Linked DNA regions of Homo sapiens. The protein of the gene in region 1 interacts with the protein of each later gene in a biochemical or structural test. Each region holds a gene or a part of one and is shown in the gene's direction. Other genes may lie near its edges.

Evidence for each region.
Region 2: the proteins of HIP1 (region 1) and HTT form a complex in vitro, tested with the Homo sapiens proteins (2 studies listed by BioGRID).
Region 3: the proteins of HIP1 (region 1) and CLTC form a complex in vitro, tested with the Homo sapiens proteins (3 studies listed by BioGRID).
Region 4: the proteins of HIP1 (region 1) and CLTB form a complex in vitro, tested with the Homo sapiens proteins (2 studies listed by BioGRID, with this or other methods).

What each region holds. Positions count from the first base shown.
Region 1 is NC_000007.14:75,735,927-75,743,248, reverse strand, and holds the start of HIP1 (huntingtin-interacting protein 1), read left to right. Parts: upstream 1-4,307; 5' UTR 4,308-4,328; coding exon 4,329-4,448; intron 4,449-7,322. UniProt on the Homo sapiens protein: Plays a role in clathrin-mediated endocytosis and trafficking. Involved in regulating AMPA receptor trafficking in the central nervous system in an NMDA-dependent manner. Regulates presynaptic nerve terminal activity.
Region 2 is NC_000004.12:3,126,664-3,133,688, forward strand, and holds part of HTT (huntingtin), read left to right. Parts: intron 1-600; coding exon 601-941; intron 942-3,260; coding exon 3,261-3,384; intron 3,385-3,641; coding exon 3,642-3,760; intron 3,761-4,622; coding exon 4,623-4,734; intron 4,735-4,974; coding exon 4,975-5,112; intron 5,113-5,898; coding exon 5,899-6,057; intron 6,058-6,150; coding exon 6,151-6,248; intron 6,249-7,025.
Region 3 is NC_000017.11:59,678,895-59,685,919, forward strand, and holds part of CLTC (clathrin heavy chain 1), read left to right. Parts: intron 1-502; coding exon 503-625; intron 626-2,017; coding exon 2,018-2,163; intron 2,164-2,400; coding exon 2,401-2,584; intron 2,585-2,752; coding exon 2,753-2,945; intron 2,946-3,376; coding exon 3,377-3,534; intron 3,535-3,734; coding exon 3,735-3,899; intron 3,900-4,012; coding exon 4,013-4,120; intron 4,121-4,200; coding exon 4,201-4,368; intron 4,369-4,492; coding exon 4,493-4,642; intron 4,643-4,730; coding exon 4,731-4,862; intron 4,863-4,980; coding exon 4,981-5,091; intron 5,092-6,161; coding exon 6,162-6,332; intron 6,333-6,692; coding exon 6,693-6,914; intron 6,915-7,025. UniProt on the Homo sapiens protein: Clathrin is the major protein of the polyhedral coat of coated pits and vesicles. Two different adapter protein complexes link the clathrin lattice either to the plasma membrane or to the trans-Golgi network.
Region 4 is NC_000005.10:176,406,518-176,413,542, reverse strand, and holds part of CLTB (clathrin light chain B), read left to right. Parts: intron 1-2,065; exon of another isoform or gene 2,066-2,236; intron 2,237-2,719; exon of another isoform or gene 2,720-2,915; intron 2,916-3,239; coding exon 3,240-3,286; intron 3,287-6,834; coding exon of another isoform or gene 6,835-7,005; exon of another isoform or gene 7,006-7,025. UniProt on the Homo sapiens protein: Clathrin is the major protein of the polyhedral coat of coated pits and vesicles.

The sequences.
Region 1 (7,322 bases):
GCCTGGCCAACATGGTGAAACCCTGTCTCTACTAAAAATACAAAAATTAGCAGGAATTGGTCATGGGCGCCTGTAATCCCAGCTACTCAGGAGGCTGAGTCAGGAGAATCGCTTGAACCTGGGAGGTGGAGGCTACAGTGAGCCGAGATCCCGCTACTGCACTCCAGCCTGAGCAACAGAGCAGGACTCTGTCTCAAATAAATAAATAAATAAATAAATAAATAAATAAATAAATAAATAAATATAAAAATAAATAAAAATATACAAAAGTTAGCCGGGCGTGGTGGTGGACACCTGTAATCCCAGCTACTTGGGAGGCTGAGGCAAGAGAATCACTCGAACACGGGAGGCGGAGGTTTCAGTGAGCCGAGATTGTGCCACTGCACTCCAGCCTGGGCAATAGAATGAGACCCTGTCGTGAAAAAACAAAAAAAGAGAGAGAGAGAGATTGGGGTATTCATCCCCCAGCTGCCTCCCTGCCACGCCACTTTCCACAGTGACTGTGGGTTTTCTACCTAAGGTCACAGCTCTGGGAAAATGCCTACTTTCCCATGACCAGAGCCCCCACCAGGTTACAGCACAGCTCCCTCCCCTTTTCTCTTTAGGTCTAGAGATGGTAACAGCTTCCTGGTGTTCCAGTAATATCTGGTGCTTTACCTGTCCCGGTTGATTCCCTTAACTCAGGTCACACCTTTGTACATAGTTCCTTCTCTTTCTTTTTCCTGAGAGAGGGTCTCGGTCTCTCAGGCTGGCGTGCAGGGGTGCAATCATAGCTCACTGCAGCCTCGACCTCCTGGGCTCAAGGGATCCTCCCGTCTCAGTCTCCTGAGGAGCTGGGATTACAGGTGTGCACCATCACACTTGGCTCACTGCAACCTCCACCTCCAGGGTTCAAGCGATTCTCGTGCCTCAGCCTCCCAAATAGCTGGGATTACAGGCGCGTGCCATCACACCCTGCTAATTTTTGTATTTTTAGTAAAGACGGGGTTTTGCCACGTTGCCCAGGCTGGTCTCGAACTCCTGGCCTCAAGTGAGCTGCCTGCCTTGGCCTCACAAAGTGCTGGGATTACAGGCATGAGCCACTGTGGCACGGCCACAAAAAATTTTTTAAAAATTAGCCAGACATGGATGGGCATGGTGGCTCATGCCTGTAATCCCAGCACTTTGGGAGGCTGAGGCGGGCAGATCACTTGAGGTCAGGAGTTCGAGACCAGCCTGGCCAACATGGTGGAACTCTGTCTGTACTAACAATACAAAAATTGGCCGGGCATGGTGGCATACACCTGTAATCCCAGCTACTTGGGAGGCTGAGGCAGGAGAATAACTTGAACCTGGGAGGCAGAGCCTGCAGTGAGCTGAGATTGCGACACTGCACTCCAGCCTGGGCAACAGAGCGAGAGTCTGTCTCTTAAAAAAAAAAAAGGAAGAAACTATGTACAAAGGTGTGACCTGAGTTAGGGGAATCAACCAGGACGGGTAAATTGGCAAAGCACCAGGATTTGCTGGAACAGCAGGAAGTCACTACACCCTATCTCTAAATAAATAAATGTTTTTTAAAAATTGAGATTTTTGTTTGTTTGTTTTTTGTTTTTTGCTTTTTGGAGATAGAGTTTCACTCTGTCATGCAGGCTGGAGTTCACTGGTGCGATCTCAGCTCACTGCAGCCTTCGCCTCCCAGGCTCAAGTGATTCTCCAGCCTCAGCTTCTCGAGTAGCTGGGATTACAGGCACATGCCACCACACCTGGCTACTTTTTTGTATTTTTTAGTAGAGACAGAATTTCACCATGTTGGCCAGGCTGATTTTGAACTCCTGGCCTCAAGTGATCTGCCCGCCTCGACCTCCCAAAGTGCTGGGATTACAGGTGTGAGCCACGGTGCCCGGCCAAGGTAATTTCCTCTTCCTCTGTCAGCGCCCCTACCGTGCTCCCACGCTCAGTTGTCATCTCCCTCTCCCTAGACATGAAAAATCAGGTGACATCTAATCTCTCCCAAAGCAACACAAGGGAGGGGGCACTCCCAAAGCCTCCCACAGAAACACAATTTAAGTAAAGGTGAAACCAGTCCAGTCCTTCCTATGCAAATGTAGCCTGAATGGCACCGCCATTGCCCATCCCCCAATCCCTGTGTCCAAGCCTTATTTGCGTAACCTCCCACGGGACAGAACTTCCTCCTCTCCCTTCTCTTCTAGGCCCTCATCATCTCTCATCTACGCTAGAGTCTCCCCACTGATTTCCTCCCTTCCATCAGGCCCCCATAATCCATCCCCACAATACAAGCTCCTCAGTGCACACATCTGAGCAAAAGTCTTCAGTGGCTCCTTAGTAACCGCAAATGCCCACCCCTCTTTCACTTCTCTATTGAATGTGTGAATTTTTACCAAACGCTCTTATTAAAAAAAATAAAAACAAAAACAAAAAAAAAACAGGCAGGGCAGGGTGGCTCACACCTGTAATCCCAGTGCTTTGGGAGGCTGAGGTGGTAGGATCATTTGAGCCCAGGAGATCATGACCAGCCTGGGCAATCCAGCAACATACCCCTCACTACAAAGAAATATGTATATATTTTTTTGAGACGGGGTCTCGCTCTGTCTCCCAGGCTGGAGTGCAGTGGCGCGATCTCTGCTCACTGCAACCTCTGCCTCCCTGGCTCAAGTAATCCTCCCGCCTTGTGAGTAGCTGGGACTACAGGCTTGCACCACCACGCCCAGCTAATTTTAAAATTTTTTGTACAGATGGAGTCTTGCTATGTTGCCCAGGCTGGTTTCAAAGTTCAGAGCTCAAACGATCCGCCTGCCTCAGCCTCCCAAAGCGCTGAGATTACAGGTGTAAGCCACCGCACCTGGCCAAATTTACAACACACACACACACACACACACACACACGAATCACCAAATTGTTAGGCCTAAAGGTGCCATTCATTACTCCGAGTTTCAAATAACTTTTAAAAAATACATCTATGCCGGGTGCTGTAGCTCATGTCTGTAATCACAGTACTTTGGGAGGCCAAGGTGGGAGGCTTGCTTGAGGCCACGAGTTCGAGACCAGTCTGGGCAACATAGAAAGACTCCATCTCTGCAAAAAAGATAGCCAGGCTTGGTGGCGTGCATCTGTAGTCCCAGCTACTCGAGAGGCCGAGGCAGGAAAATCGCTAGGACCCAGGAGCTCAAGGTCCCAGTGTGTTACGATCTGCACTCCAGCCTGGGCGACAGAGGGAGACTGACTCCAAATGAAACCAAAAAAAAAAAAAAAAACAAACAAAAACAAAAACAAAAACACACCTAAATTGGAGTTTAACGGAAAACTTTTAACTTTCTCCAGCACTCCTGCTAAGCATCACACTTCTCTCTGCTTGCTGGTACCCTGGCTGACGTCTGAGCAGGATGGGACGCGCGGCTCAGAGCCTAAGATAAACCGAAAGTGTCTACAGGGCTTTCTACCAACAAATAAGCTCTGACGGGTTCCTTTGATGAGGTTTGGGAGGCAGGTCCCGGGAGGTGCCCGCGGACTCAGCCCCGAACTCCGGGACCTGGGCTCTGCGATCCTTGCAGAGGGCATGGGCAGGGGCAGAATGGAGAAGTGCAGGACGGGGAAGCCTGGGAGCTGGGTGGGGGCGGCCACCCATTGAGCCGGATCCGGCCAGGCGCCCACGCTGCGCCCCGCCCGCGGGGCTGCGCTTTCCCGGGCTGCGGCCGCAGGGCTGGTCAGTCCGGCGCTCCCGGGTCCCAGGCCCGGAAGGAGCTAACGGGCTATTCGCAGGCGGGCTGGGATTCCCCCGGGGGAGGCCCCACTGCCCGGCCCGCGTCATCCCCGCCCATCTCCACGGGCCGTCGCGGGATAGCCCCCTGCAGGAGCGGGCAGGGTAGTGGGCGGCGCTTGGCGGAGGGCAGCACGCTCGGGGCGCGCGGGGACTGCGGCCGAGGGGAGGAGAGGGCGGTGCGCGGGCGGGGGCGGGGCGAGCGAGGGCATATCAGGGCAGCCCGCCCAGGCCACGCCCCATCCAGGCCTCGCCCCGTCCGCACCCCGCCCCGGCCCTGCCTAGAACGGCGGGACCACGGTGACTGACAGGACTCCAGACCAGTCACCACGCGCCTCGAGGCCCCGAGAGGCTAGTCGGGGCCGAGCCAGCGGAGGGGCTCCTGAAGGGGCGGGGGCGGGCGGGGAAGCCGTTCGGCGAGGGGCGGGGTCTCTGGAAGACTGGCAGAACTCACAGCCAATGGCAGGCGGGAGCCGTCCCGTTAGCGCCGGATCCCCGCGGGTAGGGCGGGGCGGGCGGCGCCGTGGGGATCCCGGGGCAGCCGAGGGCCCCTGACTCGGCTCCTCGCGGCGACATGGATCGGATGGCCAGCTCCATGAAGCAGGTGCCCAACCCACTGCCCAAGGTGCTGAGCCGGCGCGGGGTCGGCGCTGGGCTGGAGGCGGCGGAGCGCGAGAGCTTCGAGCGGACTCAGGTGAGGACGGGGGACCCCGGGGCATCCCTGGGGCACCCTGAGGGACGCGGTGTCCGGGAGGGGCTTTGAAGGGAGTAGGAGTCTTGCAGGCCCCAGTTGAAGACGGGGCGAGGGTGTAGTGAGCGGGGGCATTGACGTGCAGATCTGGGCGATCCCAGGAAGGTCGGGGACCCCAGGGTACCCCAGCTGGCCTGGGGAGAAGGGCAGAGGCGGGCTCGGAGGAGATGGCAGGATGCGTGGCCAAGAGGAGCCTGATCGGCTGGGTACCGGGCAGGAGTCCCAAGATGAGGTGAGAGGGGAAGGAACTGAAAAGGGGCGGAATGGAAGGGTTGCCCCTAAACAAGGGAAGCGCACGGGAGCCACTTGGAGGCTCAAGTGTGGGGGCGGAGAGTGGGGGCGCCGGGCTGGGAATGTGAAGGGTGAGGGGACCTCTCTTCCCCTCCGATCACTTCTTGGTTGCATTGACATCCCTTCCCACCCCCCACCCCTTAGCATCCCCCTTTCTCGATGCCTCTTGCTTGGCTCTGGCCAGCCCCAGCTGTCAGCTCTGAGGCCGGGCGGAAGGGGTCGGAGCAGGGAAAAGGAATGTAGGAAATGCAAAGTGTGGCCACTTTGTGGGAAAATTACTTTGGGGGCTAAAGTGGAGACCATGGTGCCCCTGAGCCCTGACTTGGGGTCTTGGTTTTATCCCCCAAGATGTGCCTGACAGCTAATAGGCAGACTGCCCTATTTGTCCTGCCTGGCCAGGGCTTGGGGCCAAAATTCCTCAGTGTCATCAACAAAAAGCCACAATCCATTTTTTTCTCCGAGTTTTTAATGCCTGGTGTATTGATTGGGCTGAATTAAGCTGACATGTTGATGGTGTTCATCAATTCATTTGTATGTAAAATCCATTTCAAAGAGTACAACGCTTCTTTTAATCCCAGTGCCAATGCTGGAGGGGCAGATTTCTTCTACACTCTTGTGCTCAGAGTGGAACCTTTGAAGATCCATTTGGGTCCCCCTCTCCAGAGGCTGGTCCCCTGATGTGTTATGCGAGGAATACTTCCCCCAAACACAGTTGGAGGGAAAGGGCTTTGGGATTTTAGTTAGAAAAGACAGTGAGAATCTGACTGAAGGTTCTGTATATGGAATCTTTCAAAGAATAGAGCTTTTGGCCGGGCGCGGTACCTCACACCTGTAATCCCAGCACTTTGGGAGGCCGAGGCGGGTGGATCACCTGACGTCAGGAGTTTGAGACCAGCCTGGCCAACATGGTGAAACCCTGTCTCTACTAAAAATACAAAAAATTAGCTGGGCGTGGTTGCAGACGCTTGTAATCCCAGCTACTTGGGAGGCTGAGGCCAGCAGAATTGCTTGAATCTGGGAGGTGAAGGTTGCAGTGAGCCGAGATGGCGCCACTGCACTCCAGCCTGGGCAACAAGAGCGAAACTCCGTCTCAAAATAATAATAATAAAAAAGAATAAAGCTTTTCACCCCCAGAGGACTTCATCCCCTCTTCTTATTCTGAAAACCTTTGGCCCCCCACCTGGGCAACATAGTGCGACCCTGTCTCTACAAAAAATAAAAAAATTAGGCTGGGTGCATTAGCTCACACCTGTAATCCCCGTACTTTGGGAGGCCAAGGTGGGAGGATCACTTGATCCCAGGAGTTCGATACCTGCCTAGACAACACACTGAGATCCCGCCTCTATTTTGAAAAAATTTTAAAATTATCCTCGTGTGGTGGCATACACCTATAGTCCCAGCTGTTTGAGAGGCTGAGGCATGAGGGTCACTTGAGCCAGGAGGCTGAGGCTGCAGTGGGCTATGATCGTGCCACTGCACTCCAGCCTGGGTGACAGAGTGAGACTCTATCTCTACAAAAAAGTGAAAAAAAGAAAGAAAACCGCGCGCAGGTGTGTCTGGATAGTGTGAAGCAGTGGGACCCTGTCTCTACAAAAAAAAAAAAGAAAAAGAAAAAAAGAAAGTGCCTCCATGCAGGTGTGTCTGGATGGTGTGAAGCAGGGAGTCTTCTCTACCTGGTTATCCTACCCCAGGAGGGAAGTGGGAAATGGTCATTTCACTTCTGCCTCCCAGGATCCAGCTAGGTTTGAGGCTTGTTCTCTGGTTTCATGGACCCGACCCCTGAAAAGAAGGAAGTTTTCCATTGGTCTTGGATGTTAGTGCCTCTGCTAGCTGCCTAGTTACATGAGGCTTCTTGCTCCATGAAACAGTGTGTATATTCCTTTTATTTTTATATTTTCATAGAGATGGGGGTCTCACTGTGTTGCCCGGACTGGTCTCAAACTCCTGGCGTCAAGTGATTCTTCTGCTTCTGCCTCCCAAAGTGCTGGGACTACAGGCATGAGCCATGGCACCCAGCCCTATTTTTTTTTTTAATAAATGAAATAAGAAAATAAATAGATATTATTTTTTAACAACCCGTTCCTTCTAGAGTCTCAAATAAGTAAAAACTAGAGCAATAGAGAAATATGCGTAAGACTTTGACCCATAATAGTGATAGAAATTAGGTTTGTGAAAGTTTCCACCCGTGAGTGGTATGTTTCCCTGCTATCCAGGGACGGCCCAACAGGAGAGTCTAGGTCAGTGTTTTCTGGTGTTTTACATTCTGTGGGACATTTGTGATTGGCCAGATTTGACCTGGGTGGGGTGGGTGGGGGTGAAGTAGAGTGGAGCAGAAAAAGAGAATTTTTCTGATGTTGAAACTCTTATTTTTAACTTTTTTTTTTTTTAAGACGGAGGTCTCACTGTGTTTTCCCAGGCTGGTCTTGAACTAGCCTCAAGCGATCTTCCCACCTCAGCCTCCCAAAGTGCTGGGATTTCAGGTGTGAGCCACTGCACCCAGCCTCTGGTGTTGAAACTCTTTAGGGG
Region 2 (7,025 bases), on another chromosome or scaffold:
GAGTGACCACTGCCAACAGCTTCATGTCGACCTTTTTGCCATAATTTTTATATAGCCTTTTTTGTTTTTAAATGGTAATTTAGAAAGTCAACTAGGAAAATGTGTTACAGGTTTATCTTCCAGGAGAATAGGACTGGAGTCGAGATCTTGAATGTGGCTTGGAAGAAGGCAAGCCCACCCCAGAGAGATGAGTTGACAGTTGTTTCTGACCACTGCTTGCTTAGAGGGCCTGCGTGTCTGTGACCGCCTAGCTTTGCGCCCCTGACTAGGCTGCCCCTTAATTACAAATGTCTTTATATATTGCTCCAGCTAAGGCTTGGAGTAGTCGGTTAAGAACTTGAACTTCGGTTTTTGCAGTGAAACAGCATTTGAGAATATCACCTTCTGATAAGCCTTATTTTATAAGGTGGGTACTGTAGTGGGAGGCAGTGTGAGAGATGCTTGAAGGATGCACTGCTGTCCTGCATTTCAGCATCTTCAGGATGCTGTGCAGCTGAAACATTTGATAACGGTGGAACTGTTCGTTATTTTGCAAGCCTGTGATTCCCTATTGAATGTTTTCTCTCGCCATTTGACAAATGAGTGTTTCTCTGTCTTCAGCCTCAGTGAAGGATGAGATCAGTGGAGAGCTGGCTGCTTCTTCAGGGGTTTCCACTCCAGGGTCAGCAGGTCATGACATCATCACAGAACAGCCACGGTCACAGCACACACTGCAGGCGGACTCAGTGGATCTGGCCAGCTGTGACTTGACAAGCTCTGCCACTGATGGGGATGAGGAGGATATCTTGAGCCACAGCTCCAGCCAGGTCAGCGCCGTCCCATCTGACCCTGCCATGGACCTGAATGATGGGACCCAGGCCTCGTCGCCCATCAGCGACAGCTCCCAGACCACCACCGAAGGGCCTGATTCAGCTGTTACCCCTTCAGACAGTTCTGAAATTGTAAGTGGGCAGAGGGGCCTGACATCTTTTTTTTTATTTTTTATTTGAGACAGAGTCTCACTCCATAGTGCAGTGGAGGCCGGGCACAGGGGCTCATGCCTGTAATCCCAGCACTTTGGGAGACTGAGGCAGGCGGATCACTTGAGGTCAGGAGTTCGAGACCAGCCTGGCCAACATGGTGAAACCCTGTCTCTACTAAAAATACAAAAATTAGTTGGGCGTGGTGGCACATGTCTGTAGTCCCAGCTGTTAGGGAGGCTGAGGCAGGAGAATTGCTTGAGCCTGGGAGGCAGAGGTTGCAATGAGCCGAGATCGTGACACTGCACTCCAGCCCGGGCAACAGAGCAAGACTCCATTTCAAAAAAAATAAAAAAATAAAGTGCAGTGGCTCGTTCTCAGCCCACTGCAACTTCTGCCTCCCAGGCTCGAGCGATTCTCCCGCCTCAGCCTCCTGAGTAGGTGGGATTACAGGTGGGCACCACCACACTCAGCTAATGTTTGTATTTTCAGTAGAGACAGGGTTTCACCATGTTGGCCAGGCTGGTCTCAAACTCCTGACCTTAGATGATCCACCCACCTTGGCCTCCTAAAGTATTGGGATTATAGTTGTGAGCCACCATGCCCGGCCCTGCCACCTGCCATCTTTTGAGTTCTTCCCTGGAGACCTAGACCTGAACCCTCCTGCTTGTTCTCTTGTTATCTAATACCCCTATTGACAGCGCAGCTTAGATCATTAATGGAGAGCTTGACCTCATCTGATACCTTCACTGAAGGAAACAACTTAGTGTCTTTTGTGTTGAACACTGAGGTAAAAAATTGGAATAGTTGATTATATGAACTCTGCTAAAATTGAGTGCATTTTACATTTTTTAAGGCCTTGTTGGGCCCTGGTTAAATAATTATTTTTAAAAATCCTTAAGGAGCCTATTATAAACAGATCTGTGGTCTTAATGAAATGTGATTAATACTGTGCATTATTTTAAGAACTTTTGACTTTTCAAAAAACTTTTACAACATTTCCCATTTGATAGCGGCATAGGTTTAAGCACTTCTCATCTCTAAGTTAGTGGACAAAAAACCCTCATGGATAGTCTAATAATGTTTGCTACAAGTCCATGTTGAGTTTTATACTCCATTTTATTTTCAGTTTTAAAAACTGTGGTTAAATATGTGTAACATAAAATTTATGTTCTTAACCATTTTTTGCGTATACAGTTCGCTGGTATTAAATACATTTAAATAATGTCATGGAATCATTGCTACCACCCATCTCTGTAACCTTTTGATCATGTAACACTGAAGCTCTGTTCCCATTGAACTCTATTCCTCCTTTCCCGCCAAGTCCCTGGCAACCACGATTCTTCTTTCTGTCTTCTGAATTTGACTACTTTGGGTTCTCATATACTTTAGGAGTCACACAGTATTTGTTTTACTTAGCATAATGTCCCCAAAGCTCATGCATGTTGTAGCCTATGTTAGAACTTCCTAATGTTTCAGGCCAAATACTATTCCATTGTATGGATAGGCCACATTTTGCTTTTCCATTCCTCTGTCCATGGACACTTGTATTGCTTCATGTTTTAGCCATTGTGAATCATGCTGTTATGAACGTGGGTGTACAGATAGCTCCTGGAGACTCTGCTTTCCATTTTTTTGGCTAAATACCCAGAAATGGAGTTGCTTTTACATTCCAATTTTAATTTAAAACATTCATATCATTGAGTGTTTTACTTAATAGTATAGTAGTTAACAAACTTAATAAAATAGTATTTTGGTAATAATTTGCTGGTAGTCCATTGTTCAGTTTTTTTAGGTAAATTACACAGGACATTTCAAGTGGACATGAAACATCTTGTGATGTGGAATCATGCCCCAAGCTGATGGCTAAACATATGAAATACCATACCCTAAATTTAGTAGATTTAGTCTTTGCAATTTAGGAGATAACCTGTTATATTGTTAGGTTTTTGTCGAAAAGCTTTGTCCTCATATTTCCAACTTGCTGTAAAATTTGTTTGTGAAGACAAATATTTTTGTATGGGTTTTTTCTTTTTCATATTAAAAAGAAATGTCCACATTGGAATTTTTTTGGAGTTTTTAGAGCTAATAGAGCTTTTCATAATGTAGTGGGAATGAGTGATCAGTAAGCTCTTAGCAGTTTCCATGCGTGCATTTCTGTGCCTTGAAATAAATGACAGATGAGTACATTTGTGTTCTGTGTGTAAAATGTGCTCTTTCCTCATTGCACTTCCATGTTGGAGGGCTTGTCTCTTGGTGATCACACTTCAAAATTCTCACAGCCCCCCTTGAACCGTTTAGGTGTTAGACGGTACCGACAACCAGTATTTGGGCCTGCAGATTGGACAGCCCCAGGATGAAGATGAGGAAGCCACAGGTATTCTTCCTGATGAAGCCTCGGAGGCCTTCAGGAACTCTTCCATGGGTATGTGGACTACAGGTGATGCGCTACAAAGTGGTTTGTATTCAGACCTGGACATCTTAATTATATCTTTGCTTCCAAGAAGAAGTCCTTTGATACTGTTTTCTGAGTTCTGAATAGCTGATGAAAATGACCAATTGAGGAATAATCATACTTTTTCTTGATCTAAATCTTATACTTTTGAGTTATCTTAGCATAAATGTATAATTGTATTTTAAGTGGAAATTTGTCACTTAATCTTGATTTCTCTGTTTTTAAAGCCCTTCAACAGGCACATTTATTGAAAAACATGAGTCACTGCAGGCAGCCTTCTGACAGCAGTGTTGATAAATTTGTGTTGAGAGATGAAGCTACTGAACCGGGTGATCAAGAAAACAAGGTGAGGGACATAGGCTTGAGACGACTTGGTGTTTCTGAGCTTGTGTGAGGATTTAAAATCGCCCTGGCTACTGTCTACTTTATTGCTTTCCCATCCCTGGGCCTTTAAATTTCCCCTTTAAATACCAGCTCTTCCCAGGCCTGTTGTTTTCTGCCTTTCCAGGTACTACCCACAGCCTTGAGAATTGCCTGAGTTCTGCCTCCTTTGAGAGTGTGCCCCAGACAAATCTATTCTGTACTGAATGTTTCCTTGTCTGATTTCTTGGATCATTCATTTGATGGTTGCGTATGGCCTGCAACGTTTCTTGTTTTGGTTCTACTGAACTGTTCTAAAAGTCTCTCTTCATATTATCTTTTTACATGTAAATGTAACTGTCTTCACTTTTAATTCCTCAAGGACAAGGAATAGCGTTTCACAGTTCGTCCCATCAATCAGAATTATAGCCTTTGGCATCTCCCTATCTACCAGGCCCACTTCCTCTTAGATTTGGGCTTCCCCAGGCTGTTGCCTTTCCCCAAGTAGCTTCTGCTTGTCCTGTAGAAGACCTTTCATGCTTTGCTTCTGCAGCAGCCGTTCCTGAATGCCTAGTGTCAACTGCCTTCTTACCACGCCCACCCTCCCTGCATGCTGCATTTATCCCCTGCCACAGCCCTGTGACCCTGTGTCCTGCTGCCTCTGACTTGTCTGTTTCTGCTTGGCCATGGTCTCTGTGAGGTCAGGTGTGCATATGGGCACAAACCAGGGCATCTCTTTATCCCCAGCACCTGGCTTAAGTGCTGCTCTGGAACTATCTGTTGAATGAACTAATGCATGAATGTATTGTTGAGTATGAGACAAACAAGTGTCATTGTCTCCTTTCTAGCCTTGCCGCATCAAAGGTGACATTGGACAGTCCACTGATGATGACTCTGCACCTCTTGTCCATTGTGTCCGCCTTTTATCTGCTTCGTTTTTGCTAACAGGGGGAAAAAATGGTGAGTACAAAAGGGGATGTGCACAGTTGAAGGAAATAACTAGGTTTCAGAGGTCAGCTTGGTGGCCTGTTTTTGCCTTGCGTGCAGCAGAGGAAGTAGAATCTGAGGATGAGTTTGGTTTTCACTAGCCGAGGGGAGGGAGGAAATGATGGGAGCAGGTAGGTTATTGGGTCTGGTTTTGTTCATTTGAAAACAATCTGTTGTTTGAGGCTGAAGGTGGCTTGGGTGATTTCTTGGCAGTGCTGGTTCCGGACAGGGATGTGAGGGTCAGCGTGAAGGCCCTGGCCCTCAGCTGTGTGGGAGCAGCTGTGGCCCTCCACCCGGAATCTTTCTTCAGCAAACTCTATAAAGTTCCTCTTGACACCACGGAATACCCTGGTATGTTAAAAGTTCACATCTTATTTTCTCAGATTTAATCATTATTGTAAAAACTATTTCAGTATTGACTATTTTAGTTTTAGAGCAGTAAGTGTTTTGAGTTCATTTGGGATATTTGACCTGCGTTGTAGCTCTTCAGAAAACACATGAATAGTGAAGTTCTTTGTTTCATGGGTTCCCTTTAGATGAAACCCATAGAGGAGAAAAGTAGAAACCTCAGCACGTAAGAGCCAACATATATACACATCGGATTTAAACCTAAAGCACAAATTGTGCCTGGTCGCAGTGGCGCTGAGTCGCACTCAGCCAGGCCAGGCATTCACACTCAGGGTGAGTGGGAACCAGGACTGGCTGAGGCAGCAGTGGACCCAAGTCTCCATCGCGCCCATGCTTACTATGGAGCCTTCTCGTTCTCTCTTTTTCTTTGGGTGAGAGGGTACACTTGTGTTTTTGAATTTATATGAGGTAAGTGTGTAATAGGGTTTTTTCTAATCTTTTTTAAGTGGAATCTGGAATTTTAATCAGATTTATTATCTGACAACCTAGAATTATAATCCAGAAAGTCTGTGGTATTGAGGACATATTGGCAATATGATGAATCTCTAATTCTTAAATCCTGAAACTTTTTTTTTTTTAATCACTTAGGGTTATTATAGTGAAGTCATTTCTGAATTTGGATCTTCTCTTCACACCTCTTTTTCTCTTTCCTGAGAATTAAGCTTTTGTTTCGAGTTAGAAAGTTGATAGTAGGGAATTGTTCCATGGCTGAGCAATTTATCTCCACAGAGGAACAGTATGTCTCAGACATCTTGAACTACATCGATCATGGAGACCCACAGGTTCGAGGAGCCACTGCCATTCTCTGTGGGACCCTCATCTGCTCCATCCTCAGCAGGTCCCGCTTCCACGTGGGAGATTGGATGGGCACCATTAGAACCCTCACAGGTAACGGCCAGTTTTTCAGCTGTGTTTTTTCTAGTTATGCTTACTAAGGTTTAAGTTTAGATGATGATGTTTGTTGCTTGTTCTTCTGGTTAGGAAATACATTTTCTTTGGCGGATTGCATTCCTTTGCTGCGGAAAACACTGAAGGATGAGTCTTCTGTTACTTGCAAGTTAGCTTGTACAGCTGTGAGGGTGAGCATAATCTTCTGTGGAACCATTTCTTCACTTAGTGGACATTTTATCATTGCTACAATTAAAATTGGAGCTTAATAGGAAATATTTCCATGCACTCTAAAGCTGTAACCAGTAATACCCACCATGTATCCATCTCTCAGCTTTAGAAAGAAAACGTTGCCAGTAAAGTTAATGCTTCATAAACTTCAGTTTAAGTTCTAATTCTCAGAATATTTGTTTGAAATAGACCTCTTCCTAAAGGATATATTTAGAAATAACCTATCATTAAGTGTAAAGTCTGTTGAATATGCTGGGCACGGTGACTCACACCTGTAATCTGACCACTTTGGGAGGCCAAGGTGGAAGGATTGCTTGAGCCCAGGAGTTCAAGACTATGGGCAACATAGTTGACCCTGTCCCTACAGAAAATTAAAAAAAAAAAAAAAAAAAGTAGCTGGGTATGGTGGTGCATACCTGTAGTCTCAGCTACTCGGGAAGCTGAGGTGGAGGGGGGATTGCTTGAGCCCCAGAGATCAAGGCTGCAGTAAGGCGTGGTTACACCACTGCCCTCTAGCCTGGGCAACAGAGTGAGACTGTCTCAAAAATAATAGTAATAATAATCAGTTGAATTAAAAAAAAAAAAAAAAAAACCACTGTGCTAGGCCCATAGTATGGTAAGAGTTAAAGTGAGCCTTAGGGATTATTTACTCAACCTCTGTTTCTGTATAAAGTGGAATAGGCTCAATTCTTTAAGTGATAGCATGTTGAACCTTTCCATACCAACTGGCTCATAAG
Region 3 (7,025 bases), on another chromosome or scaffold:
AGAAAGCTGAGGCAGGAGGATCACTTGAGCCCAGGAGGTCAATGTTGCAGTGAGCTATGATCGCAACACTGCACTCTCCAACCTTGACAACAGAGCAAGACTCCTACTTTCTGAAAATATTAGAAGTCAAGATCTGAGCTTTAGTGTATTTGCTTCTAAGATCTTTCAGTGGTCAGGGCTTAGTTACATTTATGTACATACATATGCTCATTTATGTACATACATGTGCATATACGCATGGAAAAATAAACACACAAGAACAGCTAGTAAAACACTGAAAACTGTAAAAGTGGACTAGTCCTACCAGATGTTGAACTGTGTATTACAAAGTCTATATAATTAAAACAGTATATTACTGGTACATGAATCAAAGTCCAAAACTAGATCCAATATCAGTAAGATTATCAATAAACATAGTTTAAAAGATAGGAAATACCCTCTAAAATGCTATAAAAAGTCCTTTACTTTTTACCTTGAAATTAATCTATCATATCTTCTTTAGGTTTGCAATGAGAATTCCCTCTTCAAAAGTCTTTCTCGCTACCTGGTACGTCGAAAGGATCCAGAATTGTGGGGCAGCGTGCTGCTGGAAAGCAATCCTTACAGGAGACCCCTAATTGACCAGGTAACATTGGCAAATGTGTTTATGGCTGTCAGTAAAAATTATACATTTTTAACTATGAATACAATCCTTTCCCTCATCATGTACTCAAATGGATCATATATAACTATGAGAGAAAGCAATACAAAGTAGAAGAAAATTAAAATTTATATATATTCAATTTACATTCATTTGTATATAATGAATGTAAATTGATTATATACATTATATACAAATGAATGTACATTTATATAAGTATAAATATGTATATAACATACATTAAGAAAAATAAGCCATGTGCGGTGGCTCACGCCTGTAATTCCAGCACTTTGGGAGGCCGAGGTGGGTGGATCACCTGAAGTCAGGAGTTCGAGACCAGCCTGGCCAACGTAGTAAAACCCCATCTCTACTAAAAATACAAAAATTAGCCAGGTGCATGTAATCCCAGCTACTCGGCAGGAAAATCGCTTGAACCCGGGAGGTGGAGGTTGCAGTAAGCCGAGATCACGCCATTGCACTCCAGCCTGGGTGATAAGAGCAAGACTGTCTCAAAAAAACAAAAAGAAAAAAGAAAAAGAAAATACATCCCAAAAGACCTGACTTAATTATATAAAACTCTCTTGGTTCATCATAGTTTAAAAGGAAAATAACAAACTAAACATTAAAGATTGCTATTATTAACACTTAAGTGGCTAAATTGATTGGAAACTTCAAGATAATAAGTCAGAAAAATATAAGGATAAGAGAAAATACAAAAGACCAAGTGCATCAGTGTTATATCTTACTAATAAGAAGTATAGAACTGCAAATGAGATGGGGTTTTATACCTAAATAAAATAGACAACATATTTTAAAAGTTCTAAAAATAGAAGAGTTGTTATAATGAGTCTTAAATTCTCCTGAGATAAGTATAAATAAAATATTTTGGAAACGAATAGGTTGAAGGCTATTAATATTTCATTCCTTTCCTAGGAAGCACTTCTAAGCAACATTCCCAAGTAGTTACAAAGCTTCCTAGGGGAAGGTTGTGGGGGTGGGGGCGATGGTTGGAAATCATTGCAGCATCTAGAAAACCAAGCAAATAGCCAAAACCAGACGAATTACCGATATTTTAATTCCACATCTGTGTAGCTGAATTTTGAATTATGTGTAGCCATTAAAGTGATAATGATGATTGCTAGCCTGGATAATGTTTTAATCAGGGAAAAGATAGAAATTATATAATTAGAGTAATTTTTCAACACAATTATACATATTGTATAGATTTGTGTAGAAAGACCTCTCTATGTAAATTTAAAGGTCTTTTTCCTACTTCATTCTTTTCTGCCTATTTCAAGTTTTCTAATGAGAGGCCAACTTACGCTTTTTTAAAACCAACTTGATTCTCAGTACTTATGTCCCATATATCCTCTGTAGGTTGTACAAACAGCTTTGTCTGAGACTCAGGACCCTGAAGAAGTGTCAGTAACTGTAAAGGCTTTCATGACTGCAGACCTTCCTAATGAACTCATTGAACTGCTGGAGAAAATTGTCCTTGATAACTCTGTATTCAGTGAACACAGGTATGCTTTCAGAGGGATCCATTGGCTATTTATAGTCAGTCTTTAATAAATTATGGCCCATCAGTTTTGGGAAGGAACAAAAAGATCAGAGAAAGTTGCCTGAATTCTCACTCTTCTAATATCCTCCCCCCTACCCTACCTCTTGAGACAAAAACCTCTCCGTTAGTCACAGTGGTTATTTTTTATGTCGGATAAACTTAAAATATTGCATTTAAAATATTCTTTTTTTTCTTAAAGGAATCTGCAAAACCTCCTTATCCTCACTGCAATTAAGGCTGACCGTACACGTGTTATGGAGTATATTAACCGCCTGGATAATTATGATGCCCCAGATATTGCCAATATCGCCATCAGCAATGAGCTGTTTGAAGAAGCATTTGCCATTTTCCGGAAATTTGATGTCAATACTTCAGCAGTTCAGGTAAATCTTCAGATTACCTAAGTTGAATTACTAAACACTGTGCTATGAGGGTGGGCCTAATTGGTTGCTACGGCAATAGAGCAGCAATAAAATACTAACAGCTTAAATGTAATTGCTTTGGGTAGGATTGATTTTACTCTAACCCTAATTTCAAACTTGGATACTTAGGTCTTAATTGAGCATATTGGAAACTTGGATCGGGCATATGAGTTTGCTGAACGTTGCAATGAACCTGCGGTCTGGAGTCAACTTGCAAAAGCCCAGTTGCAGAAAGGAATGGTGAAAGAAGCCATTGATTCTTATATCAAAGCAGATGATCCTTCCTCCTACATGGAAGTTGTTCAGGCTGCCAATACTAGTGGTATGACTTCTTACCTTATGTATTGAAACCTCATAAAATGATTAAGCTAAGCATTAAGATATCTGTCTATTCTGAATTTTAGAAGAGTTGGATACTGCATGGTTTCTTTTAGTGCTCCATCTTAGTCCAGATAAAAAGAGGCTGTATTTTGTGAATTTGTAAGTTCACAAAACTTACAAGTGGGGAAGATGAATCTTCTGTTTTTGAAGTCTCATAAAATCCTGATAGTGCTCTAATCTTAAAACTTTAAGGAAAAAGAATTCATCTATTCATTTGGTCCGTGATAATACAGAAGTGAAATATTGCACGGTTTACATTTGTCATTATCCATGTTTCCTTGAAAAGGAAATGAATGCAATTTTCATTTACTTGGGTGAAAGATAAACTAGGATGTTAGTGTTTGGATATATTTTTTCTTTTTCTATACTTAGGAAACTGGGAAGAACTGGTGAAGTACTTGCAGATGGCCCGTAAGAAGGCTCGAGAGTCCTATGTGGAGACAGAACTGATATTCGCACTGGCTAAAACAAACCGCCTTGCAGAGTTAGAAGAATTTATCAATGGACCAAATAATGCTCATATCCAACAAGTGGGTTTCCTTTTCAGATTTAAGAAAAACTAGTTGGGCTACTTGATTAGCTTGGTAGGATCAAAACATCATAACTGAAGAATTCCAAGGAAAAATCTATAGGAAAACAAATTCTTTCTCATTGTGAAGATATCAATTTGAAAAGAGGATTAAGCTCACACTAATATCTTGCTGAATGTGGGTTACCTTTTTTTTTCCAGGTTGGTGACCGTTGTTATGATGAAAAAATGTATGATGCTGCTAAGTTGTTGTACAATAATGTTTCCAATTTTGGACGTTTGGCATCTACCCTGGTTCACCTGGGTGAATATCAGGCAGCTGTTGATGGGGCTAGGAAAGCTAACAGTACTCGAACATGGAAAGAGGTAATCTAAACCCAAGTTTGAGTGAAGAATTAAAGAAACGCTATTTAAACATTAGTTTAAATAACTAGCCATGTTTTACATTTGAGTTCACAGAAAGGAAATGTTTATTCTAGGTCTGCTTCGCCTGTGTAGATGGGAAAGAATTCCGTCTTGCTCAGATGTGTGGACTTCATATTGTTGTACATGCAGATGAATTAGAAGAACTTATCAACTACTATCAGGTATTAACGAGACTTTTATATGACCTGAGATCTTTTACCATAGATATTCTTATCTTTAACTGCACATTTCTCTTGTTCAGGATCGTGGCTATTTTGAAGAGCTGATCACCATGTTGGAAGCAGCACTGGGACTTGAGCGAGCTCACATGGGAATGTTTACTGAATTAGCTATTCTATACTCTAAATTTAAGCCTCAGAAAATGAGGGAGCACCTGGAGCTGTTCTGGTCTAGAGTGAATATTCCCAAGGTAACCAGTCATTGTAACACAGTGAAGCAACTGTGTAGTTAAAACTAATGCTTCAAAATATCTTATTCTTTTTAAGGCTGTTAGCTAGACTCATATCTAAAGCAATTAAGTCTTTCTTATGCAGGTGCTAAGAGCTGCAGAACAAGCTCATCTTTGGGCAGAACTGGTGTTTTTGTATGACAAGTATGAAGAATATGATAATGCCATAATTACCATGATGAATCATCCAACTGATGCCTGGAAAGAAGGGCAATTCAAAGATATCATTACCAAGGTGTGTACTTTCTTCAGAAGATAAAGGATTCAGAAGGAGAAAGCTCATTAGGAAGTAACTGACTTATGTATGGATTTTCCCATTGTAGGTTGCCAATGTGGAACTATACTACAGAGCAATACAGTTCTACTTAGAATTCAAGCCTCTGTTGTTAAATGATTTGCTGATGGTGCTGTCTCCACGGTTGGATCACACTCGTGCAGTCAATTATTTCAGCAAGGTAAAGTAATAATTTTAAACCAAAGCTTCATAGCAAGGAATTAGGACATACTTCGATAACTTTTGTCCCTGGGACTTCAATAATGTGCTATATTTGTAACAAACTCTTTATTTTAAAGGTTAAACAGCTACCACTGGTGAAACCGTATTTGCGTTCAGTTCAGAACCATAACAACAAATCTGTGAATGAATCATTGAACAATCTTTTTATTACAGAAGAAGATTATCAGGTAAAACCTTTTGATTCTTGCACATAATCTCAAGACTCATAAAGTTATGTTTTCCCATTTTTTAAAAAAGCCATTATCCTTTAGGATTGTAAACAGTAGGTGCTTGCATACCTAGGATCTAAATTTAGTAAGATTTCAGGATTGATAAATCTTCTAATTAAGTGCCAAGTTTTCAGAATTTTGCTCAGATCTTGTATAAGATACTGCTTTTGAAAAAAATGATATGATTACTTTATCTCTAACATCTAGATTGTAGGTAGAGTCAAAAATGTCTTTGACCACTTAACTAATTCATAAAATTTATTTGGTATTAACTATATTTATTCACCATTTTTCTTGCCTACTGTTTTATTAGTGTTTGTATAAACTTTCTCTTATGAAGGATTTCACAAGCAAAAGTGAAGTAGAGTTAAGCTTAAGCTACTTGCCTTTTTTTCTCTCTCTTCATTTTCTTTGAGGCTCAGCGCATGCAGATCTGTACTGCTGCCATGCTGAGTTTTATCAGAAGTTTCTCTAGAGCACAGAATCTTGCCCTCCATGCCAGGCGTGGTGACTCACGCCTGTAATCCCAGCACTTTGGGAGGCCAAGGCAGGCGGATCACGAGGTCAGGAGATCGAGACCATCCTGGCTAACACAATGAAACCCCGTCTCTACTAAAATACCAAAAAAATTAGCCGGTTGTGGTGGCACGTGCCTGTAGTAGCAGCTACTCGGGAGGCTGAGGCCGGAGAATCGCTTGAACCCTAGAGGCAGGTTGCAGTGAGCCCAGATTGCATCACCACTGCACTCCAGCCTGGGCAACAGAGGGAGACTCCATCTCAAAAAAAAAGAAAAAAATCTTGCCCTCCAAATTAGAAATATTGTCCATTTCATAGCCATATGTTAGTCCTTGATAGTGAAAATCTTGGAGAAAATGGTATCTTTAGGTAAAATGAAAAATCATACCTTTTGATGCTTGAATCTAGGTGTCATATTACATGTTACCATCTAAGGGGCTCATTGATTGAGAACGGAATATAATGTTAAACAAAATACTGATCTGGCATTTGGATGGCTTTTTTTTTTTAAGGCTCTGCGAACATCAATAGATGCTTATGACAACTTTGACAATATCTCGCTTGCTCAGCGTTTGGAAAAACATGAACTCATTGAGTTCAGGAGAATTGCTGCTTATCTCTTCAAAGGCAACAATCGCTGGAAACAGAGTGTAGAGCTGTGCAAGAAAGACAGCCTTTACAAGGTTGATAAAGTTGCGGGGCAGGGGCTGTTTTAAACCAGGCCTAAAATGGTGTTACAAGTGATTATAATCTATAAATAAAAGTATTGGTTTTGTGAATATGAGAGCTGACTTTAAGGCAATTTAAGTTAATGGATTTCTTGATTCTAGGGGCTCTCTTATGTTAAGGTCAAACTTGTCTGGGGAAAAAAAAGCTTTTAGCTTATCTCTTCTTTGAAAATTTTAATTTAAATGATACAACTAGGAGGCTTTTTTCCCCTTGCAAAACCAGATTTATATTGGAAAGTTTCCATTGTTTTTCTTGGTTTACTAGTTCAGTATGTGGGGTCTAATGTTTTTGACTTTCACTATTTCTTTGAATAGGATGCAATGCAGTATGCTTCTGAATCTAAAGATACTGAATTGGCTGAAGAACTCCTGCAGTGGTTTTTGCAGGAAGAAAAAAGAGAGTGCTTTGGAGCTTGTCTGTTTACCTGTTACGATCTTTTAAGGCCAGATGTCGTCCTAGAAACTGCATGGAGGCACAATATCATGGATTTTGCCATGCCCTATTTCATCCAGGTCATGAAGGAGTACTTGACAAAGGTAATGACTCTTCTAAGTGTATTCAGAACTAGTTTCCTTGCATGTAAAATTCTACATGCACATTAATTTTTTTAAATGCTTTTTTCTTTAGTAGAAGTAAGTCATTTAGTC
Region 4 (7,025 bases), on another chromosome or scaffold:
TTGCCCCTGGGGAAAGAGGTATCTGGTGTAGGCCTGTGCTGGAGCCACAGGGAGCCCCTCCTCTCTGGCTGGATCTGTGGCCCTGGGTGATCTGGATGATGGACACTTTGTTTCCATTCATCAGCCTTGGGTAGGTTTCCATTTTCACACCCAGTTTTCTGAGCACCAGGCCTGGCTCTGACTTGCCTGTCAGTTCTGGGCAAGCCCATTTCCCCCGCTGGGCCTCGTAAGCTCACAGGAATGTTCTGGACCCTCTCTGCCCTTGTTCCAAAATGGGTCAGGCAGCTGAGGGAAGCAAACCCTCAGGGGTTTATCCCTGGGACGTGTCTCTGTCTCAGTCCTGTTCTGCTGGCCTGTGAGTGTGGACTCCCGGTGGTAGATGGGCAGTGGGTGGGTGGAGAGCACTGTGGGAACAGGTACTTGGAATGCTGTGTAGGTGTGTGTGGACTCTTAAGGAGGCCGAAACTGCATGTCCAGAGGAACACTCTCGAGGCTGAGGCAGAGAGACTTTCTGAAGGTCAGGGTAGACCCCAGGCAGCTGTGTGTAGATGTGGGGTCTGAGACTGGGGTTGGTCAGGGCGGAGTAGGGTGGTGCAAATTCTCGAGAAGGCCAAATGTACAGACCGGCATCACAGGGAATAGACCCTGGTAACGTGAGGCCCTGCTAGAGGAGACACCCCAGCAGAAGAAGCCCCTTTGCAGAAGATGCTGCCACTGAAATGCTATTGGTCCCACTGTGATTTAGGGGCCAGGACACCCATGCAGGAGAAGCCTTATCTGAAGGAATGGGAGTGACAGCTGACAGAGTTGGTTGGAATCAATCACTGGTTGACTCTGAAAGCAAAGTCAATTATGATTTATGTCACCCGGGGATTATTTCCATGGGATTAAGTACCCTTCCCTTGAGTCCCCAGGCCAAACACACTGTCGCTGCTCACAGCCCTGTCTGGCTGGTGAAGGGCTATTTGTCCATCTGCCTATTAACCTCATGTGGCCTCCATGGCTTTTTGCTAGGAGGCACAGCAGTTTCTGAGAGCCTTGCAGATAACAGCAGGCCTCAAAACAACAATTCAACTTCCATTTAGCCAATAGTTACTGCTCACCCATTCCGTGCTGGAGCCCTGAGGAGCTGAATAGGACACGGAGCCTGGTAAGGGGGTACACACGGACCCTGGGGGTCATGAGTAATTGCACAAGAGGGTGCAGGATACTGTATGATATCCTGGGATACCCCGGAAGTGAGACCTTCCGTAAGTGCCTAGGGAAGTAAAGGAAGCAGAGGAGGGCTTCCCAGAGGAGGTGACTTATGAGCTGGACCTTGGAGAATAAATGGAGCCAAAAAAGCATTCTTTTTTTTTTTTTTTTTTTGAGATGAGTCTCACTCTGTCGCCCAGGCTGGAGTGCAGTGGCGGGATCTCGGCTCACTGCAAGCTCCGCCTCCCGGGTTCACACCATTCTCCTGCCTCAGCCTCCCGAGTGGCTGGGACTACAGGCGCCTGCCACCACGCCTGGCTAATTTTTTGTATTTTTAGTAGAGACGGGGTTTCACCGTGTTAGCCAGGATGGTCTCGATCTCCTGACTTCGTGATCTGCCCACCTCAGCCTCCCAAAGTGCTGGGATTACAGGCATAAGCCACCACGCCCGGCCCAAAAAAGCATTCTTTAGAGAGGGAAGCAGGAAGAAAGCATGGGGATGAGGGTGGTGTGTTTGGAGAAGGAGGAAACCAGAATTTAGGGTTTGTGGGATGGGCTGGTGGGAAGTGAGTCAGGAATGGGCAGGGCCAGATTGTAGAGATCCTCATGTTCCAGGGTTAGATGTACTTATCTGGCAAATATTTATTGAGTCCTTGTTATGTTCCAGGGACTGTTGTAGGTGGGCCTCATCATGGATGAAACCAAGTCCACACCCTCATGGAGGGTCTGTTTGTTGGGGGAAGACAGATAATAAACACATACACAAATAAACACAGCAGGCTGTAGTAAGTGCGCTTAATACTGCAGGAGGAATAGGAAGGGGTGCCCAAGGGGTGGATGGGGGTGTGGTCAGGGAGGCCTTTAATTAGGCAGCATTTGAGCAGAAGCTGAAGGGAGTGAGGGAGCAGCCTTCCAGGCAGAGGGAACAGCACCTGCAAAGTCCCCAAGGCAGGAGTAGGCGCTATAGGCCACTGTGGTCCATGGGAAGTGGATTTCTTTGGAGTTTGTTTTCATGACATTTTGAGTCAGAGGAGAGGCACAGGTAAGTGCATGTTTTACAGACTGTCAGCCCTGGCAATTGGTTTGAAAGAGGGATGGGAGAGGCTGGAGTCAAGGGGGCCTGTGAATGGGCAAAAGCCATGCAGTCGTTGTCTTTCTTTCATGCATGTATTTACTTGTTTATTCAACAAATAATTATTGAGCACCTGCAAAGTCACAGGTGCATGCAAGTCTCTGGGAAAGACACAGGAGAAGAGAAAGAGACACAGTTATGTCTTCCCAGGTGTTTGCCCCTAGCGGGCAAAGCAGTTGTGCAGGTGCAAGGTGGTGAGGTCCTGGGCTGGGGCTGAGCTGCGGGAGAGAGTGGAGGGCAACTGTGAATGTCAGTGTTGTAGCAGAAGCCCCAGGAATTTGTGACTAATCAAATGTCAAGGAAAGGGACAGGGAGGAGTCACTGCTGAGGGCAAACTTAATTCCTTCTGGGAGGGGCACAAAGAGAAAAAATATGCCAGGTGCTTCTGGTGGGAACTGCAACTCCTGCTCACCCAGGAGGAGCAGTTGCTCAAGGCGCCTCAGGGACAGGCAGAGACGCGTAGGCCCCTCTCTTCCTTATCCAGTGTAGCCCCTGCCCTGAGCTTACAGCAGCTCAGCCTACTCACCAGGCACAGGCTTCACAGGTAATCTGGCCATTCCCAGCCATGGCCAGGGGTCAGTGATTTCAGGTAGGTAAGGAGCTATTACTGGCTGGGTGATTTTGAGCATGGCCTCTCTGAGCCTCAGCTTGAGTATCTGTAAAATGGGTTGACAACAATTTCATTGCAGGGCTGTGGTGAACATAAAATGTACTAATGGCTGTGAGAGGCTTTATAAACAGTCAGGGGTGGGATTGAGCCTAAGTTATATATATATCCATTATGTCTGTTTGCATGTGGGTCGATATATACATGGGTATACACAGAGTTTGGGTTGAGGGGCTAATGTAGGACCATTTCCTGCTTGCTATAAGCTAAACAGTGAGTAATGCTATCTCCTTGTTCTCTTTCCAGCTGGTTCTGAGGACATGGGGACCACAGTCAATGGAGATGTGTTTCAGGTAAGCAAGGCTCTGTCTCAGCAGTGGTAAGGACCAACAGCCCTGGTCTCAGTAACCTAAAGCCTCATTGTTGTAGGCTTACAGCTCCAGGTTCTCCTGTTCATTATGTCTGATGCATTGGGGTGGAAACATAGAGAAAGGTTTTTGGAATTTTTTTTGTCATGTAGAGGGCAGGGAAGAAGAATAAGGACCACTAGAGATCGAGATTGATGGGCAGTAGCCTCAGGTTGCCCATGGTGATGTCTGGTTTTGGGAGGGAGAGGTCAAGTGGCCCACAGCAGCATGAGATGAAGGCAGCGCAAGGCCTTCCCTCACCACTGACGGGAGGCAGAACCCAGGCCATCTCCACACACAGGGCGGGCCCTTTGATCCAGAGATTCCACTTCCAGAATTTTCCCAAAGGAAATAATTGGACAAGGCCACCCAGATTCTTTGCAGGGTTATTTATAATGGCAGACAATTTGGAGACAACCTAAGTGTCCAGCATCAGGGAACTGAATAGATAGATTAGAAAACCAGGCTGTTGTTAAAAAGGGCAATCAGGGCCGGGTGCAGTGGCTGACGCCTGTAATCCCAGCACTTTGGGAGGCTGAGGTGGGTGGATCACGTGAGGTCAGAGTTCAAGACCAGCCTGGCCAACATAGTGAAACCCCGTCTTTACTAAAAATACAGAAAATTAGCCAGTCATTGTGGCAGGTGCCTGTAATTCCAGCTACTCGGGAGGCTAAGGCAGGAGAATCACTTGAACCCAGAAGGTGGAGGTTGCAGTGAGCTGAGATTGTGCCATTGCTCTCCAGCCTGGGAGATGAGAGTGAAACTCTGTCTGAAAAAAAAAAAAAAAAAAAAAAAAGGGCAATCAGATCTTCCTGTATTGACGTGAAAAGATGTCCACAATATATTAAGTGGAAAAAGCAGCTTGCAGAATAATATACACAGTATGGTCCTTTTTTTTTTTTTTTTTTTCAATTTTAAAAATATGTTTGGGCTGGGCGTGGTGGCTCATGCCTGTAACCCTAGCACTTTGGGAGGCCAAGGCAGGTGGATCATGAGGTTGGAAGATTGAGACCATCCTGGCTAACACGGTGAAACCGCACCTCTACTAAAAATACAAAATTAGCTGGGTGTGGTGGCACAAGCCTATAATCCTAACTACTTGGGAGGCTGAGGCAGGAGAATAGCTTGAATCCGGGAGTGGGAGGTTGCGGTGAGCCGAGATCACGCCACTGCACTCCAGCCTGGGCAACAAGAGCAAAACTCTATCTCAAAAAAATAAAACTAAAGGTTTGCACTACATATCTGAAAGGATGTGTACCAGCTGTTAACAATGGTTAGCCCCAAGGGTGGGGTGGGATGGGGATAAGAAAGGGGCATTCACTTTCACTGGGTTGTTTACAAATTCTTTAAGTGTTTTTATCCTGCAAAAAACGAGGAAAACCCAGCCGGGCACGGCGGCTTACGCCTGTAATCCCAGATTTTGGGAGGCCAAAGTGAGAAGATCATGTGAATCCAGGAGTTTGAGACCAAACTGGGCAACATAGTAAGACCCCATTTCTGCAAAAAATGAAAAATTAGCTGGGGCAATAGTGTGTGCCTATAGTCCCAGCTACTCAGTAGTCTTAGGTGGGAGGATTACAGCTTGAGCTGGGGAGGTCCAGGCTGCAGTGACTATGATTACACTACTACACTTAGCCTGGGTGAGTCTTTTTTTTTTTTTTTTCCTGAGATGGAGTTTTGCTCTTATTGCCCAGGCTGGAGTGCAATGGCACGATCTCGGCTCCCTGCAGCCTCCGCCTCCTGAGTTCAAGTGATTCTCCTGCCTCAGCCTCCTGAGTAGCTGGGATTACAGGCACCCGCCACCACGCCTAGCTAATCTTTTGTATTTTTAGTAGAGATGGTGTTTCATCATGTTGGCCAGGCTGGTCTCGAACTCCTGACCTTCAAGTGATCCACCCACCTCGGCCTCCCAAAGTGCTGGGATTACAGGCACGAGCCACCGTGCCCGGCATGACAGTCTTAAAAAAAAAAAAAAGAGGAAAACCCTAGTAAGTGTATTTCTAGTTAAGACTGCTTCTGTCCGCACCCACCTAACTCTCTTCCCCTTGCATACACACAAATCCATTTTAGTACTCTGAGGGAACTCAGACCACAGAGGCATGCAATAGTCCTCACCTCGGCCCCCCAGCCAGATGCCTGGTGGGGCTAAACCTCCCCTCAGAGCCTTCATTCCCACTCAGACTGGGCCAAAGAGCCTTGATCCTGGGGTCTTTGGCTGTGGGATCTTCTGAGCCCCGCCCTGGAGGAGCTGGCTTCTTGAATCCTCTGGGGGAGTAAACAATACTTATTTTCTTATGTAAGAGGGATGGGCTGGTACCTTATGCAGGGAGACTGGCCAAGTCCTGTTTCTGGAAAATTACTCAACTATCAGCAAGCTGGAAAAGTCCATCTCTAGGACTTCAGCAGCTTCATGTCTAGTTGGGCCCGAGGGAGTCAAAGAATGAGGATTTGCTTCTGTGCAGCTTGGTAGATCATTAAGACTTAGGCTGCCCAGGCTCTCTGGCCACATTCAGAAGGACTTTGCTTGACCCCACAGTTCTGTGTCCTAAAGTGCACCTGGAGCTGGAGATATGCTTGGAACCACAGAAGTATGTAGAACATGGCCGGGCACAGTGGCTCACGCCTGTAATCCCAGCAGTGGGAGGCTGAGGTGGGTAGATCATTTGAGGTCAGGAGTTCAAGACCAGCCTGGCCAACATGGAGAAACCCTGTCTCTACTAAAAATACAAAAATTGGCTAGGCAGGGTAGTGGTTGCCTGTAATCCCAGCTACTCAGGAGGCTGAGGCAGGAGAACTGCTTGAACCCAGAGGCAGAGGTTGCAGTGAGCTGAGATCGCACACTGCACTCCAGCCTGGACGACAGAGCGAGACTTTGTCTCAAAAAAGAAAGTACCTAGAACACTCTGAGCTGGATCATTTACCTTTCCTAAAGATTAGCATCACGAAGCTCAGAGAGGTGAAGTGGTGAATGCAAAGTCACCCAGGAAATCAGCCACTTCTGGAGTGCACCCCATTTGACTTGGCCCCCCGCCTTCTCCCTCCCGACCTGTCAGCCGTGGGTGAGCTGTGGGTGAATCTGAGGAGCCCGGGGCCTCCTTTCCAATCTGAGTGAGAACTCTTATTCTCACTGTTACTAAGAATCACAGCAGGTGTGTTTATTTGTAAATCATATCACATCAGTGCCATCCGAGAATCCTTACAGGCAGGGCAGGGTCACAGATGAGCTGAATCACTCAGAAGCTTAGTGGCAAAGCCCCAGCTTGCCTACATCTCCTGGGCTCCGACCCGGTGTGCTTTGCATTACGACTCTGTTGCTGGAACTGGCTGGCCACAGCGCCTGGGTCACAGGTGGAAAGCCCCAGCTCTTTAGGATTGAGCATAGCAGGTCTGGCCTGCACCTGCAGGGGGAGGAGAAACCTTGGCCTGTGCACACCCAACACTTTCAAGGATCCCAGACAGAGCTTTTGTGCTTCCTTTCTTCCTCTTTTCTGCAGCCCGTGCACCACCAGCGGGTCCAGCTACAAACCCAGTTGCCAATACAGCCTAAGGACGAGCCTGCCCACAACTATTCCAGTTCCATTTGGCACAGCCAGGGGCAGGGACAGAAGGGCCCTGCAGGACTCCGCCTCCCCACCTCTGCACAGATCCTCTCTCCTTTCCCCTAATACTCCCATCATCCTCCTTT